2 linked regions of the Homo sapiens genome follow. The protein of the gene in region 1 purifies or fractionates together with the protein of each later gene. This does not show direct contact. Each region holds a gene or a part of one and is shown on either strand. Other genes may lie near its edges.

What was found.
Region 2: the proteins of CA4 (region 1) and ALDH1A2 purify together in Homo sapiens (affinity purification with mass spectrometry; one large-scale study listed by BioGRID and IntAct). This does not show direct contact.

The regions. Positions count from the first base shown.
Region 1 is NC_000017.11:60,148,244-60,153,793, forward strand, and holds the start of CA4 (carbonic anhydrase 4 preproprotein), read left to right. Parts: upstream 1-1,729; 5' UTR 1,730-1,791; coding exon 1,792-1,849; intron 1,850-2,521; exon of another isoform or gene 2,522-3,286; intron 3,287-5,550. UniProt on the Homo sapiens protein: Catalyzes the reversible hydration of carbon dioxide into bicarbonate and protons and thus is essential to maintaining intracellular and extracellular pH. May stimulate the sodium/bicarbonate transporter activity of SLC4A4 that acts in pH homeostasis.
Region 2 is NC_000015.10:57,995,530-58,000,486, forward strand, and holds part of ALDH1A2 (retinal dehydrogenase 2), read right to left. Parts: intron 1-4,957. UniProt on the Homo sapiens protein: Catalyzes the NAD-dependent oxidation of aldehyde substrates, such as all-trans-retinal and all-trans-13,14-dihydroretinal, to their corresponding carboxylic acids, all-trans-retinoate and all-trans-13,14-dihydroretinoate, respectively.

The sequences.
Region 1 (5,550 bases):
CGCATTCCTCAGAGGGGATGCCCTACCAGGGACTCGTTCTCCTCACCCATCTTTATGGTCCCAAAATGCACCCAGGGCCCCCCTCTCTCCTGGGGGGCCTGAATGCAATGAACTTTAAAGTGGATCATTGATCAACAGTCCCTTAACCCCACCAAAGTTTCCCAAGCCTCTCCCCTGCTCATCAGGGGGCTGGCCAGAGGTCACAGGGACTCCCTGGGGGTGGTTTTTATTCCCAGGAACAGGCTTCCTCAGTCCTGAAAGGGACATTTTTATAGCCCTGTGAACACAAATGCACTCCCCAGAATAGGCTCTGGGTGTGGAATCCCTCCTGTGGCTGTCATGGTCGCAGGCTGGTGATTACATTATACAGTGGTGTTGACAATAGAGCCCTAAGCCTGGCATGGACACCCCCTCACCTCCCTCCTGCCTCTCTGTAGGATCAAAGCTGCTCTGTGAGGCTGTGTGATCCTGGGCCAGGAGCGGGGAGTCAGCCTCAACCCTAAGCAAGGAGGAAGCATCTTTGCCTGAATCCTTCTGGGGGAGGCAATCCCCCTTCAGAAGTCCCTAGCCCAGGTTCGAAGGTCGGTAGGGACTGAGAGGTTGGCAGCGGATGGGGAGTGGCTAAACCAGAAAAAGGGGGCTTCCTGTTGATGGATTGATGGAGGAGGTCCAGGTCCACTGCCTGGTTCCCCGTCCCTCTCCCGCACCCCAGCCTGAGCTTCCCAAACTCCCACAGAAGCCCCCACCCCATGTGGGACACAGAGGACCTGCAGTAGCAGGAGGGCACAGCTAAGAGAGGAGACAAGAGGCAGCTTGGGGGCATGGGGGGGACCCCATTTCCCCAAATGTTGGAGCCGCCCTTAAGGGAACTTCCCCTGGACTCCTCTGGAGGTCTTGCCAGATGGGAGAACCAGGGGTCCATTCAGACCCCAGTCTCTTCTCTTCCCATCTCATCTCTCCACCTGGGGGGCTCAAAGAACCTAGCTCCTCCCCTTTGACCCCATCAGCTTCTCCCTCACCGAATCCTCTTACAATCCATTTCTTAATTCTGCCCCATCAACCCTCCCTGGTCATCACATAAACACCAGCAAGGGCAGTAGTTTAGGGACAGCTTTGCTCTGTATTCGAAGAAAGGTCTTTGGTCTGCTTAGAAATTAAGTTTGGAGCAGCCTGGGAGGAAATAGAAGAGATGAGACCCAGAGAATCAATGGCCACTGCCAAAGAGAGATAGGAGAGCCTTTCTGCGGCCACTGATTCAACAAACGGCATCACACGCCCCTCAGCCTCTCATCTCTTCGAGGCCATCTCCACCCCCACCCCCACCCCCACCCCAAGGCCATTCCAAGGTCCCATTCAAGACCACTGCGCAGGGGTGGCGCCAGAATGATCAAAGTCATCATGGGGCACTCATCTTTGTGTGGGTCAAGCACTTTGTGGTGTCGTGTCCCTGTTCCCAAACCAGGGACCAGGAGTAGGATGGGGGAGGGGCAGGGCGCCGCTGCTGAGTGGAGAGGACGCGGAGTGGGTGAGGGGGCCTTGCGCACAGGGCAAGAGGTGGCCAGGCAGGGCGGGGGACCGGGGAGAGCGGAGGATTTCAGATGAGGGACAGGGGAAGGTGGAGAGGGGAGGGCAGGCCCCGCCAGGGGGAGGAGCCGCCTCCCGCGTCCAGCTGTCGGGGCTCCCTCCCGTCGCGGCTCCGCTATAAAACCCAGGCCGGCAGGATCGCTGCACCCGCGGCGGCCTCCTCGGTGCGCGACCCCCGGCTCAGAGGACTCTTTGCTGTCCCGCAAGATGCGGATGCTGCTGGCGCTCCTGGCCCTCTCCGCGGCGCGGCCATCGGCCAGTGCAGGTGAGCTCCCGGGCTCCGGCCCCAGGTGCCCCTCGGCGGTCCCCTCCGTGCCCCCAGCTCCCGCCCCTGCAGAGGATCCCCCCGCGGGCGACCGGTGAGCGTCGGTGGCGCTGGGGTCCCGGGTTGCGTGTGCGCCGGGGGCCGCGAGGGTGCGGGAGGACTGGGCAGCGCGCGAGCTTGTGTGTGCACACGCGTGTCAGCACCGGCTGGGGGAGCGTGTGCACGGGTGTGCGCGGTGAGGGTGTGTGCGCGTGGCCCGGCGAGACGAGTTGGGAGTCCCTGATAAGGATGCGTCTCAGGCCGGGCGCGGGTGCTCCAGCCTGAAATGCCAGCACGTTGGGAGGCAGAGGCGGGTGGATCACCTGAGCCCAGGAGTTCGAGACCAGCATGGCCAACATGGTGAAATCCCATCTCTACCAAAAATACAAACATTAGCCGGACGTGGTGGCACACGCCTGTAATCCCAGCTACTCGGGAGGCTGAGGCCCGAGAATCGCTTGAACCCAGGAGGTGGAGGTTGCAGTGAGATCACGCCACTGCACTCCAGCCTGGTGCTCCGTTTAAAAAAAAAAAAAAAAAAAAAAAAAAAAAAAAAAAAGGATGCTTCTCGGACCCGCCTCAACGCACGCCTTCTTTTCTCACCCAGCCTCCTCCGTCTGCCCGTGGGTTTCCGTCCGTCCCGCTGGGACTCAGCGCTGGGTGACTGCCCCGCGGCCAGAGCAAGGGCGGTCTGGCAGGGTCCTGGAAGCCGCGCTTCCCACACGGGTTCCTTGCCCCTGAGGGTCGCAAGCTCCCCTGGCCTCCCTAACCTCCAGCGCTGAATTGGGAGCCTGGCGGGGGCGGGGGGTGGGGGACCCGGAGCCCCAAGGCCTCTGCGGAGCCGGTCTTTCCGGACAGGGTGATTTTCGTTTAAAGATTAATGGTGAAGCCGAGCTCTTAATTATTCCTCTAGGTGGGAGGTGGCAGGAAAGGCATGTTAATATTTGATAAGAAGCTAAAGGCGCTTCAAGCGGCTGGGCACAGGGATCCGATCCTGGAGGCACCTTCTTTGCAACCCCAGACCCCATCACCGGAAGACCCCCTCTGCCAGTTCTCAGCCCAACCACCCCTCGGATGGTTCTTGGGGTCCACGCAGGCTGAAACCTCCTCTCCCAAGTTAGGTGCTCCATCCTCAAAGCGGCGGAGTGAGGGGTGAAGGTGTCCTCTGCACAGAGAGGAGCCAGCGTGTGCCCTTTGCAGCAGGGACTGGCTGAGCTGTCTTAGAGGGTCGAGGGGCACCTTGCAGCCTCTCCACCGGGCCCCTGGGAGAAGAAAGAGAAAAAGCAGAATGTGGAAACTTTTATTTGTAGGGTTGGACATTGGAAACCTACTAAGCAGCTAGAAAGTAGAAAGAGAAATGCTTTGCAGTTCTGGTGCTTTGTAGCTGTGTGGTCTTGGGTAAGTCACTTCCTGTCCCATTTGCAAAACAGGTGTTGTCATTCTGACTTCAGGGGTTTTAAGCGTTTGAATAAGATAATGGGTTTAAGTGATTAGTGCGGTGCCTGTGTGGCACGTGGCTGGTGTGTCATATACCAAGTTTATGGGGCTCTCCCCCAAGCCTGGGGCCAGTGTCAGGAATGTGTCTCAGCTCACCCCTCACACAAGCTGCTATCCCCTTTAGTGCCAAGGCTTTCTGACTGGGACCTGCCTTCCATTCATCTTATGGAGGACTCAAGCTGAGAAGGGACCAGGTTGCATATGGCGACCCCCAGAGCATCTCTGTCCATTGAGACAAGAGGCCGGGTGAGGATATTTGGTCCCCTTCAGAGCCCCAGACCCCTGGCCGGGAGCGACTGAGACTTTGCCCAGGAAACACTTGGGTTGTGCTGAGCTGTTTTTCAGGATTATCCCCTGTCCCTCAGAGGGGGAGGTGGGGTGAGCAAGGTCCATTAGAGAGGCTTCTTCAGCCATCTTGAAATAAGGGGGAGGGGTGGCAGGTCAGTCAGTGTGGGGGGCAGTAGCTGGGTGACAGGCGACTGACTTTCGGTCTCTAACCTCTGGTCAGGGTGGATGGACTAGGTAGGATGTGGCGCTGGACACCGAGACCTCTGGGTAGGTAGCCCCTCTCCTTCCCAAGCCCTCTTGGGAGTGGCCTGAGTCAGTGGGCTGGTACTTACCTGCAAGGGTGGCCCTCTCATTCAACGAAGACAGGAACCTGAGTGGTGGGTGCTCCTGCCACCAGCACCCCACCCTCATCCACCGACATGGACCTGACCCCTGGCCTTGACCTCACCACCATTATGTTTTCCTGGCTGCTGCTTCCTGAAGAAGGTAGTTACAAGTGCGTTCAGCCAAGCAGGTCAAAAGTCTCCATGATTAAGACAGTGGATCACAGGTCACCACTACAAACCTAGGAGCTGCGGCCAGAGCCAGGGAAGACCAAATTCCTAAGAAAAGCTAAGCCTGGACCAGATGGGCCCCAGGGAGGCTGTGAGGCGAGTTACAGGGGGCTCCACCCTTTGCAGCTGGCTCTTGGGGATGCTGGCTGAAGGGAGGCTTCTCCTGGAATGGCTGCCCCCGGGCCCTCCAGTCAGAGAAGAGGCCAGCCCAATCTTCAAAACCCCTTCCTCCTTCAAGACCTCTGCGGGTGGGGACATGGGATGATTATGGCAAGGAACTGTCATGGTGCAAATGCCCTCTGATTTATTATCTCCTTAGTCACCAGCACTGGGAATTTGGTGGCTGCACCTGTCAGAGGCGTTTGAACCAGAGTGACTCCATTTTGGGTGAGAGCTAGGAAAATGAGGCCGAGATTTGCTGGGCTGCATTATCAGAAAGTCAGGCATTTCTAGCCTCTAGATGTTTGCAGTTAAGGGAACAAATTAATAATATTTACTACACAGACCCAGACTTGGGAAGGTCCAGATACTCCGATATCTGGAGAGCAAAGGCATTCCTAATTTTGCTTTAAAAATAATAATGTTGGCTGGGCACGGTGGCTCACACCTGTAATCCCAGCACTTTGGGAGGCCGAGGCGGGTGGATCATTTGAGGTCAGGAGTTCGAGACCAGCCTGGTCAACATGGTGAAACCCTGTCTCTACTAAAAATACAAAGATTAGCTGGGCATGGTGGTACATGCCTGTAATCCCAGTTACTCAGGAGGCTGAGGCAGGAGAATTGCTTGAAACTGGGAAGTGGAGGTTGCAGTGAGCCAAGAGCCCACCACTGCCCTCCAGCCTGGGCAACAGAGCGAGACTCTATCTCAATAATAATAATAATATCAATTCTTGGATAATGTAGTAATTAAGAAAATTAATCCTTTATCACAAACCCTTGTAGCAGAGCACATGTCCCCATATATACAACGCATTGAATGCATTCCTTCCTTCTCTGACTTTTGGGAATGTCCTACTCTGTCTATGGAGTAGCTGTCCTTTCACCACTGTACTTTCTTAATAAACGTGCTTTTCCTTTGCACTGCAGACTCAACCTGAATTCTCTCTTGTGCAAGATCCAAGAACCCTCTCTTGGGGTCTGGATCGGGACCCCTTTCCTGTAACATGCCTTCTGTCAGAGGAAGATTATGGGACTCAGAATGTCAGATAACTCCCCTGTGGAGACTGAGCAAAGGCAGAGCGGGAGCTGGAGGCTTCGGAGCTCTGCCCCACTGCTGGGGTGGCGAGTGGCCACTGCCCTCTGCAGAATCCACCCACATGGGGG
Region 2 (4,957 bases), on another chromosome or scaffold:
TTCTGAAGTATTAAAATAAACTAAGTAAAATGCTATTGGGCAAATTTAAAATGCTCGGCAACTGGAAAAAGTGAGGAGTAAAAGATATATTTCATAACTCAATCCAGGTGTCAAAATGTACTTCCTGGGTAGTGATGAGACATAGGCATGTCCAGGGCTATTTAAAGAAGGTAAAAGTCCATTTCTAAAAAGAACTCCATCAATAATCCAAAGCGTCTGCCCCCAAACTAGACATAGAAATGAGAATGTCCTAGGGGCTAAAAGAAAAAGAGCTTCAGAAAAACTTAATAACCTTGTTTTCCTTACAGGAGTAATAGGCAACTGAAATAATTATACAGGAAGTCCAAACCAAATTCATCTTTAGGAAAATGTCATTGCTTTTATCTGAATTATTTTAAATGGTTAATTAAAATTACCAAAGAATGGCTCATTTTTAGCAGATAGCTTTTCATTTTAAATACTGGGCAAAGTCTTTATTTTTCCCTCCACTGCCGGCCCTTAGGCCACTTCACTGATACTTGTTTTCTCTCTCAAAAGCAGTCCCCTAAGGCAAGTGAAAACACTCAGCTAATATTCATGAAAGCATAACTATTATAGGTGGAAATGAAGGTGGGGACAGGAGGACTGTGTGGGTCGGGAAAAGAGAAGCGATATGAATCAGATTGTTTATCACTGTCTCTCAACACACCTAAATCACATTTATCACACAAAATTGTTTTGACATATTCAAAATTATTTATTTTTTAAATAATTACATTAAAGTCTTGGCCTCTCTCTCTCTCTCTCTCTCTTACTCTCCCAGTGTCACTCTCTATCCTCTGGATCTCTGATCTCTACCCCCTCTTGCCATAATTATCTGTTTCCTCTTTTCAAGGAACTTTTATTCACATACAAGTATTTATAGGATCCTTTTATCCTCTTTTTTTTTATACAAACGGGATATTATTCAGTCTTTTATATTTTGTTTTTCCCTCTTTTTTTTTTTTTTCCTGTAAAGCTAGGACGTCTTTTTAGTGGCTGCAGGTTATTCCATGGGCTCAATAAACAATGTTACTACTGTAAACCCTCCTACTAAGGGACATAGAAGTCACTTTCAGTTTAGGCTATTATAAATAATGCTGCAAAGACTATCATTACAAACATATCTTTTCATATCTGTGGAATTTCTTGATCTAAGTGTATGTACATTTCAGATTTTCAAAAATATTGCCAAATCACCCTTCAGAAAAGTTTAACAATTCATAATTTCAACAACACGCTATTTTTCCTACTCTTTAACACTGAGGTTTTTCCAACATTTTCATTTCAGCTAATCTGATAGCTGGAAAACTGCAACTTGTTTTGATTTATGTTTAATGATAGAGTGAACATCTTTTCATGCTTATATTGTTTGCTATTTTTCTATTGGGTTATTCTTTTTAGCCATTTGAAGAGCTCTATGGATATTAAGGAAATTAGGCCTCTGTCATAATATTGCAAAGATTTTTCCCCAATCTGCTACTTATCTCTTGACTTTGTTTTATGTATATTTTAAATGGAAGAAATTCAGAAGTAGGCTGGATTCTGCAACTGTATGAAATTAATTTAAAATATCTATTACGAGAAAAAATAGCGAAGATGTTGCAACTGTCCATAGGATGACAGTATGAAGTCTGAGTAATACTTTAAACATCAAATTAACTATTTAGCTTTGTATGCAGATAACTAAAGAATCTTCTGGATATCATTCTTTACAAGACTACAAATTACCATGCTTCTTCAATTTGTAAATCTCTGAAAAGGTTTTTCATGAGGAGCAACACCACTGATCAATAAGCTAGAGTTTCATTTACAAGAAAATCTTCTGCAACTGAACTCTCTAAGTTGGTTAAGGTGATGGGTTCAGGTGGATAGTCACAGACCACAGAATCAGAGAGTAATGTCAAGAAAGAGTGCAAATGGGGCTGAGGAAAAAAATTGGAAGATGAACAGAAGAGTACACGTGTTTATTTTAGCAGCACATGTAGGAACCTGGAATGGTTCAGAAAAAAAAACTCACAAGGCAACTACACAAGCACTGCATGGCAATTCATAAACCATTTCCCCCTACACATTTTATGATGCTTAGACATTTAGTTGTTTTACTTAAATAATATCACAAGTTACCGAAAAAAGTGAAAGGGAAGAAAATGTAGACAAAAATCTTAAAAGTCGGACCTCATGAGGAATTGAGTTTGACTCCATAATTGTGTCTCAAGAGAAACTGAGTTATGAGGAATTAAAACTCTCTTGGATAAACCGTTCACATATTTGAAAAGCATTTAGCTACAGGCTAACACAGGGAAAGAGACAGAATCTTCTAGTCCCTACAGTTAGTCTAAGTAGCAAATTAAAAAATAAACGCTATTTTTGTGCTTGAACTCTTCCCAAAAGAGCACTGAGTTGAAGGGACAAAGAAAGGAGGCTACTTTCAATAAAATTCAACATTCCTTCAGGTTAAAAACTCTCAATAAAGTAGAGGCATTGATGGAACATACCTCAAAATAATTAAGAGTCATTTATGGCAAACTCACAGCCAATATCATACTGAACAGGCAAAAGATGGAAGCATTCCCCTTGAAAACTAGCACAAGACAAGGATGCCCTCTTTCACCACTCCTATTCAACATAGTATTGGAAGTTCTGGCCAGTTCTTTCTCAGGCAAGAGAAAGAAATAAAGGGCATTCAAATAGGAAGAGAGAAAGTAAAACTGTCTCTTTTTGCAGATGACATGGTCCTATATCTAGAAAACCCCATTGTCTCAGCACAAAAGCTTCTTAAGCTGATAAGCAACTTCAACTAAGTCTCAGGATACAGAATCAATGTGCAAAAATCACAACCATTCCTATACACCAACAATAGACAAGCAGAGAGCTAAATCATGAATAAACTCCCATTCATAATTGATACAAACAGAATAAAGTACCTAAGAAATACAGCTAATAAAGGAAGTGAAGGACCTCTTCAAGGAGAACTAAAAACCACTAATCAGGGAAATCAGAGAGGATACAAACAAATGGAAAAACATTCCATGCTCATGGATAGGAAGAATCAATACCATGAAAATGGCTATAATGCCCAAAGTAATTTAAAAATTCAATGCTATTGTCATTAAACTACCACTGACATTCTTCACAGAATTAGAAAAAATAACTTTAAATTTCATATGGAACCTAAAGAGCCCATATAGCCAAGACAATCCTAAGCAAAAAGAACAAAGCTGGAGGCATCATGCTACCTGACTTCAAACTATACTACAAGGCTACAGTAACCAAAACAACATGGTACTGGTACAAAAACAGACACACAGACCAATGGAACAGAATAGAGAAATCAGAGATAAGACCACACATCTACAACCATCTGATCTTCGACAAACCTGACAAAAACAAACAATGGGGAAAGGATTCCCCATATAATAAATGGTGCTGGGAAAACTAGCTAGCAATATGCAGAAAATTAAAACTGGACCCCTTCTTTACATCTTATACAAAAATTACCTCAAGATGAATTAAAGACTTAAGTGCAAAACCCAAAACTATGAAAACTCTACAAGAAAATCTAGGCAATACCATTCAGGACATGGGCATAGGCAAGATTGCATGATGAAAACGTCAAAAGCAATCGCAACAAAAGCAAAAATTGACAATTTGGATCTAATTAAACAAAAGAGCTTCTGCACAGCAAAAGGAACTATCAGAGTGAACAGCCTACAGAATGGGAGAAATTTTTTGCAATCTATGCATCTGACAAAGGTCTACTATCCAGAATCTACAAGGAATTTAAACAAATTTAGAAGAAAAAAATAACCCCATTAAAAAGTGGGCAAAAGGACATGAACAGACACTTCTCAAAAGAAGACAGTCACGCAGCCAAAAAACATGAAAAAAAGCTCATCATCAATGATCATTAGAGAAATGCAATCTAAACCACAATGAGAAACCATCTCACCCCACTCAGAAGGGCAATTATTAAAAAGTCAAGAAACAACAGATGCTGGCAAAGGTGTGGAAAAATAGGAACACTGTTCCTATTTCCCACTTTGTTTACATTCCCACTGTTGGTGGGAATGTAAATTAGTTCAACCATTGTGGAAGACAGTGTGGCAATTCCTCAAAGACCGAGAACCAGAAATACCATTTTACCCAGCAGTCCCATTACTGAGTATATACCCAAAGGAATATAAATCATTCTGTTATAAAGATACATGCATGTGTATGTTCATTGCAGCACTATTCACAATAGCAAAGACGTGGAATCAACCCAAATCCCCATCAATGATAGACTGGATAAAGAGAATGTGGTATATATACATCAAGGAATACTATGCAGCCATAAAAAGGAATGGGATCATGACCTTTGCAGGGACAATAGATGGAGCTGGAAGCCATTAACACAGGAACTAACACAGGAACAGAAAACCGAACATCACATATTTTCATGTATTGGGGGAGCTGAACACACATGGACACAGGAAGGGGAACAACAGACATTGGCACCTTTCTGGGGAGGGGTGGGGGAAGGCAGAATATCAAGATAAATAGCTAATGCATGCTGGGCTTAATACCTAGGTGATGGGTTGACAGGTGCAGCAAACCACCATGGCACACGTTTACCTGTGTAACAAACCTGCACAGGTAATCCAGAACTAAAATAAAATAAAGGGCCCTAGACCTTGTAATCTCACTTTGCATTTTCACGTGGATGGTGAAAGGTGACACCCCTAGTCTGATCTGGGGTGCCTGACAAACACAAGAGCTAAGCCTTCTGTGGGCACCTTCAGCTAGGGCTAACAGCACCCCAGAAGTCATTCACAGCTACTAAGACCCTACTATGAATTCCACTGAACTTCTAAATCAGGGTTACCGTAAGACCAGTTATAAAAGCCATCTTCATAATTTTTGCCATTTCCAAGTATCATTTGCTCTGTCATTTACT